2 separate regions of the Homo sapiens genome follow, and region 1 is reported to be linked to region 2. The links are microRNA targets in miRTarBase. Many come from high-throughput screens and were not tested one by one. Region 2 holds a microRNA gene; the other region holds the end of a gene's coding sequence.
What was found. The annotated mature microRNA hsa-miR-6808-3p reads GUGUGACCACCGUUCCUGCAG and lies in region 2 at 1,589-1,609, shown strand. An mRNA with a match to its seed (bases 2 to 7 or 8) in the 3' UTR can be bound and repressed. Matches are read on the target gene's strand: a 7mer-m8 pairs with bases 2 to 8, a 7mer-A1 pairs with bases 2 to 7 and ends in A, and an 8mer does both.

Region 1 (3,396 bases), not on the chromosome of region 2:
AAGCACCATGTCTTTTGGCTCAGCTTGGAAGTCAGGAGTCTTCCCTTCTGCCTTGTTCATTGTCACGTAAACCAACCCCAATACCCTGTGGGAGGGCTCTTCACACGGATGCAATTTAGGAGAGGGTCCTCAGGGCCCATGGAGATGGCCGCCACAGCCCTCCCTCCCCACAGCCCCTCGTCTCACCCTCCACCAGGCACTCCCTCACCCTGGGTCTCTCCCTCTTAGGCCCTGGCTGCAGGGAGTTCCCAGGAGGTGACGTATGCTCAGCTGGACCACTGGGCCCTCACACAGAGGACAGCCCGGGCTGTGTCCCCACAGTCCACAAAGCCCATGGCCGAGTCCATCACGTATGCAGCCGTTGCCAGACACTGACCCCATACCCACCTGGCCTCTGCACCTGAGGGTAGAAAGTCACTCTAGGAAAAGCCTGAAGCAGCCATTTGGAAGGCTTCCTGTTGGATTCCTCTTCATCTAGAAAGCCAGCCAGGCAGCTGTCCTGGAGACAAGAGCTGGAGACTGGAGGTTTCTAACCAGCATCCAGAAGGTTCGTTAGCCAGGTGGTCCCTTCTACAATCGAGCAGCTCCTTGGACAGACTGTTTCTCAGTTATTTCCAGAGACCCAGCTACAGTTCCCTGGCTGTTTCTAGAGACCCAGCTTTATTCACCTGACTGTTTCCAGAGACCCAGCTAAAGTCACCTGCCTGTTCTAAAGGCCCAGCTACAGCCAATCAGCCGATTTCCTGAGCAGTGATGCCACCTCCAAGCTTGTCCTAGGTGTCTGCTGTGAACCTCCAGTGACCCCAGAGACTTTGCTGTAATTATCTGCCCTGCTGACCCTAAAGACCTTCCTAGAAGTCAAGAGCTAGCCTTGAGACTGTGCTATACACACACAGCTGAGAGCCAAGCCCAGTTCTCTGGGTTGTGCTTTACTCCACGCATCAATAAATAATTTTGAAGGCCTCACATCTGGCAGCCCCAGGCCTGGTCCTGGGTGCATAGGTCTCTCGGACCCACTCTCTGCCTTCACAGTTGTTCAAAGCTGAGTGAGGGAAACAGGACTTACGAAAACGTGTCAGCGTTTTCTTTTTAAAATTTAATTGATCAGGATTGTACGTATTCAAGGTGTAAAATGTGATAATTTGTCGTACACGTACATTGTGCAATGACAGTCACAATCAATTCCTCAGCGCACCCATCGCCACAGATACGATACATTAGATATTCTGAACTTGCTCATCTTAGGACTTCACATTGGTGTCAGTGTTTTCTGACAAATCACGTGTATCAGGAATGAATGAGGGAGGTGTGGCTGGGTGAAGGCAGAGAGCCGACCCTACAGGTCCACATCTGCACATACATGCACAGGAATGCATGCTCTCACACACATGCATACACACACGCACACACACAGACATGCACATACACTCACACGCCCCAGGAAATCCAAGGAATCACTGAGCCTGCTGTTGGTTGAGGCATTTCTGAGTATCCACCCTACCTGTAGGGTCAGATGTACTGATTGACACAGAAAATTACCCTATGTACCACTAGGAGGCGGCAGAATCTCATTTGGGTTAATCTGTGTTTGTCTTTAAAAAACAAAAACAGGCCGGGCATGGAGGCTCACGCCTGTAATCCCAGCACTTTGGGAGGCTGAGGTGGGCGGATCACGAGGTCAGGAGATCGAGACCATCCTGGCTAACACGGTGAAACCCCATCTCTACTAAAAATACAAAAAAATTAGCCGGGTGTGGTGGTGGGTGCCTGTAGTCCCAGCTACTCGGGAGGCTGAGGGAGGAGAATGGCGTGAACCCGGGAGGCGGAGTTTGCAGTGAGCCGAGGTGGTGCCACTGCACTCCAGCCTGGGCGACAGAGCGAGACTCCGTCAAAAAAGAAAAGAAAAGAAAAGAAAGATTTTTAAGAATTCAGCAAAAACTCAGCCAGCTCTTTCTATGGGGCAGTTGCTAATTTAGTTCTAGGCAAACGTGGACACATTAAATTCTCCTACAAACCCTCCACAGCGTGCTCTATTATTTTCCTCATTTATAAAAACAGAAACTATGGACCGAGACATGAAGTAACCTGTCCAAGGTCGGCCAAGTCTCAGAGACAGGGGCTTCAGACCCACCTGAGGCTCCTGACTCCACATTATGAACCCCGGGATGGGCTGCAGCTCGGTCTGCTGGGAGGTTTCTGTGCTGGTTCAAAGAGGGTGGTACCTGACTGGCCTACCCAATTTTAATTTGTACTGAGCTTTAATTTTCTATTTGTGCTCAGGTTTAATTTCCTCCTGGGATCTGCTTCCCAGTGCTGTACTCTGTATCTTTGCTTTCTTGTGTGAACATTGTGACCGATTTTCCCTGTTCTTCACGTGGGACACATTCTCCCTGCTCTGTCTGTCTCTGTCCCTGTCTCTCTTTCTGTCTTTCTCTCTCACTGTGTGTCTCTCTGTCTCTCTCTCTCTTTTTTTTTTTTTTTGAGATGGAGTTTCGCTCTTGTTGCCCAGGCTGGAGTGCAATGGCACAATCTTGGCTCACTGCAACCTCTGCCTCCCGGGTTCAAGCGATTCTCCTGCCTCAGCCTCCTGAGCAGCTGGGATTACAGGCATGCACCACCACACACGGCTAATTTTTTGTATTTTTGTTAGAGACGGGGGGCTCTCCATGTTGCTCAGGCTGGTCTTGAACTCCCGACCTCAGGTGATCTGCCCACCTCAGCCTCCCAAAGTCCTGGGATTACAGGCATGAGCCACTGCGTCCAGCCGTCTTTGTCTCTTTTTCTACATCTCTGTCTTTCTTCTCTGGTTGTTTTTCAACCATCAGCTGGGTGTTTTCTCCCATAACGTCTTGTTTGTTTGACTATGAGGTTGACAGGTGGGTACATGAACTCTATAGCAGAAGGTGGACAGTCTGCACATAGCAGAGGATGGGTGAATTTTTCTACCCCTTGCAGAGCACAGGAGAGCTGAGCAGATGCCAGTGTCTGCTCCAGTGTAAGGAAGTCCAGGAAGTTCAGGTGGTGAGGTCACAGTGGAAAGCAGGACAGATAGAGTTTAGGGGAAATTAAGCAAAAATACCACACTGTTATTTCTTGACATATTAGTGGAAAGAGGAAGGGCCCAGAGAGAAGACAGAAAATTAGATGCAGGGGCTTGTTTTTTCTCTTGACTTGCCAACCCGCCCAACGCAGGGGCCAGAACTCAGGGTGGTGAGATCTGGGAACATTGCTGTGCGGAGAAGATGTCCCTCCTGCTGCACGGGCCCCCAAGCACCACCTGGGGGAAGAGCCATGTTTAATTCACCTGGCAGTGCAGTGTGGCCAGGCAGAGAGGGAGGGCCTACCCTGTGCTTATGATCCCACCCCAGTTCCCCTGGGGTGTGCCCTGGCGGTGAA
Region 2 (3,351 bases):
TTCACAATGCACGCGTGTGCGCAGGTGTGTGCATGTGTGCGTGTGCGTGTGTGCAGGTGTGCGTGTGCAGATGTGCGTGTGTGCAGGTGTGCTTGTACAGGTGTATGTGAAGGTGTGCGTGCAGGTGTGCATGTGCAGGCGTGCGTGTGCAGGTGTGTGCAGGTGTGCCTGTGTGCAGGGGTGCGTGTGTGCAGGTGTGCATGTGTGTGCAGGGGTGCGTGTGTGCAGGGGTGCATTGTGCAGGGGTGCGTGTGCAGGTGAGTATGCAGGTGTGCATGTGTGCCTGTGCAGGTGTGTAGTGTGCAGGGGTGCGTGTGTGCAGGTGTGCATGCGTGTGCAGGTGTGCGTGTGTTCATGCGTGCGTGTGCAGGGGTGTGCATGTGTGCCTGTGCGCAGGGGTGCATGTGTGCAGGGTTGCGTGTGTGCAGGTGTGTGTGCAGGTGTGTGCATGTGTGCCTTGTGCAGGGGTGCGTGTGTGCAGGTGTGCATGTGTGTGCAGGTGTGCATGTGTGCAGGTGTGTCAGTAGTGGATCTGGCTACATGTGTCTGTGCCCAGTTTGCCTGTCTCTGGGATTTTCGTGTGTGCTCATATGCATATCACGTGTGCAGGGCCTGGGGCGTGGACGTCAGGCACTGAGCCTGCTTTGGAACAAGCCTGGCCTAGACCCCCGATTCCCACTCAGTATTGGGGGAGCGGGTTCCCACCCCCCTACCCATGTCTCCAGCTCCTCTGAGCTCTGACAGTCTGTTCCCAGGCTCAGCAGCTCCACGGAGCAGAGCACCTCATCCAGACTCATCCGGAAGCACAAACGCCGGCGGAGGAAGCAGCGCCTTCGGCAGGCGGACCGGGTAGGCAGCCGGGTGGAGCAGGGCGGGGCTGGGGAGGCGAAGTCAGTGTCGGGCAGCCCCGTGCCTTTTACACACGCCCCCTCTCCTCCATAGGCCTCCTCCTTCAGCAGCATAACCGACTCCACCATGTCCCTCAACATCGTCACTGTCACGCTCAACATGGGTGAGGCCTCGGGGCGAGGGTTGGGGGCAGGGGCAGGGGCTTGGCCGCGGCTCATGGCTCTTCCTGCAGAAAGACATCACTTTCTGGGCATCAGCATCGTGGGGCAGAGCAACGACCGTGGAGACGGCGGCATCTACATTGGCTCCATCATGAAGGGCGGGGCTGTGGCCGCTGACGGCCGCATCGAGCCCGGCGACATGTTGCTGCAGGTGTGTCTGTGGGGGCTGCGGGGTGACATGTAGCTGCGGGTGGGTCCGTGGGGACTTTGGGGTGACGTGCGGCTGCGGGTGGGTCTGTAGGGGCTGCTGGGGGACATGCGGCTGCGGGTGGGTCTGCGGGGGCTGCTGGGGGACATGCGGCTGTGGGTGGGTCTGCGGGGGCGGTGGACTGAGCTGCACATCCTGCCTGCACCACCCTAATCCCCACCCCTGCAGGTGAATGACGTGAACTTTGAGAACATGAGCAATGACGATGCCGTGCGGGTGCTGCGGGAGATCGTTTCCCAGACGGGGTGAGGGCTGGGGGCGCTGGAGCGGGAGGGGCCAGGCAGGGAGGTGGGACCATGGGGGCCTTGCTGTGTGACCACCGTTCCTGCAGGCCCATCAGCCTCACTGTGGCCAAGTGCTGGGACCCAACGCCCCGAAGCTACTTCACCGTCCCACGGGGTGAGTGGCCCTCGGGGCACACGGGGCGGGATGGGGAGGGGGCGCCTACCTAGCCTGAAGGCCTCTCTCCTCTGTGCCCTGCACCCTGCCCTCCCACCCTGTCCATCTGTCCGCCTGTCATCGCCACGTGGCGGCCACCCAGCTGACCCGGTGCGGCCCATCGACCCCGCCGCCTGGCTGTCCCACACGGCGGCACTGACAGGAGCCCTGCCCCGCTACGGTACGAGTCCCTGCTCCAGCGCCGTCACGCGCACCAGCTCCTCCTCACTAACCAGCTCCGTGCCTGGTGCTCCACGTAAGTGGCAGCTCCTGAGGGCCCCAGCAGAAACCGAGGCTTGGAGGGGGCGTCTCTGCCAGCCTCCAGCATGGCCGCCTGTGGCCGTCATGGGGCTGTGACACGTGTGTGTTGCCTGTCCCCAACTCCCTGCACAGACGTGTGCACAGGCACCCGTGCCCACCTTGTGCAGCCCATCCTGCTCATGGTCTGTGTGTTGGGAACAGGGGATGTACGTAGGGCCCCTATGCGGGGAGCACCCACGGCGTCAGAGGCAGGGGCCAGGTCTCCATTCTGCTTCCTGCCATTAACACGACTAACAGCCTGCGCTCTCGGGTGGGGCATGCGGGGAGGGGAAGGGGCCTGCCCTGTTCTCATTACTTCCTGGTCTGCAGGGTGGGGTGTCAGCCCAGTTTGTGCCTAGGATCCTGATGAAAAGTGTCTGTAGAAGTGGGAGACTAAATGTCCAACCCCCCTGCTCACGCCCCAGCCTCACGGGGGTGCATCCTGCAGTGGGCCGGGGCCCTGCTGTCACGCACCGTCCAGCTTGCGCCCTGGCGCAGGCTCTGCCCAGAGGCTCCCCTGGGGGTGCAGGGCCCTGAGTCCCCCGCCTTCAGATGCTGGGGCTGAAGCGGGGCTGTCTGTGCTTTGCAGAGCTGGAAGAGGCGCCGCTGACGGTGAAGAGTGACATGAGCGCCGTCGTCCGGGTCATGCAGCTGCCAGACTCGGGACTGGAGATCCGCGACCGCATGTGGCTCAAGATCACCATCGCCAATGCCGTCATCGGTGAGTGGCCGTCCCCGCGGGCGGATAGTGCCAGGGGCAGGGCTGCTTGCCTCGAGGCTGCGGGCTGACCGCTGGTGCCGGCCAGGGGCGGACGTGGTGGACTGGCTGTACACACACGTGGAGGGCTTCAAGGAGCGGCGGGAGGCCCGGAAGTACGCCAGCAGCTTGCTGAAGCACGGCTTCCTGCGGCACACGGTCAACAAGATCACCTTCTCCGAGCAGTGCTACTACGTCTTCGGGGATCTCTGCAGCAGTGAGTGGGGGCTTCGGGCTTCAGGGCGGGGGGGAGGGGAACGCCGGAGGCCCCTCCGCGGCCCTCACCTACCCTCCCCCGCCAGATCTCGCCACCCTGAACCTCAACAGTGGCTCCAGTGGGACTTCGGATCAGGACACGCTGGCCCCGCTGCCCCACCCGGCTGCCCCCTGGCCTCTGGGTCAGGGCTACCCCTACCAGTACCCGGGACCCCCACCCTGCTTCCCGCCTGCCTACCAGGACCCGGGCTTTAGCTATGGCAGCGGCAGCACCGGGAGTCAGCAGAGTGAAGGTGAGAACGCCGCCCCTACCTGCCCTTCCCCGGCTCCGCCCCCAGCTCCGCCCCACTCCACTGCTGCTC

Region 1: miRTarBase lists LAIR1 as a target of hsa-miR-6808-3p. Seed matches in the 3' UTR shown: 7mer-A1 at 1,172-1,178 and 7mer-m8 at 3,026-3,032.

Annotation. Positions count from the first base shown.
Region 1 is chr19:54,352,247-54,355,642 of GRCh38, reverse strand. LAIR1 (leukocyte associated immunoglobulin like receptor 1) reads left to right here. Exons shown (of 10, transcript NM_002287.6): 10 at 229-3,396. The coding sequence ends at 375. Among named protein-coding and RNA genes, the nearest start is that of LAIR1, 11 kb to the left of the region's middle.
Region 2 is chr1:1,337,908-1,341,258 of GRCh38, reverse strand. MIR6808 (microRNA 6808) reads left to right here and starts at 1,551; the gene lies at 1,551-1,609. It overlaps DVL1 (dishevelled segment polarity protein 1), which reads left to right. Exons shown (of 15, transcript NM_001330311.2): 6 at 756-849; 7 at 943-1,012; 8 at 1,082-1,221; 9 at 1,447-1,523; 10 at 1,610-1,677; 11 at 1,820-1,972; 12 at 2,606-2,737; 13 at 2,823-2,990; 14 at 3,076-3,282. RefSeq lists a silencer at 3,256-3,315.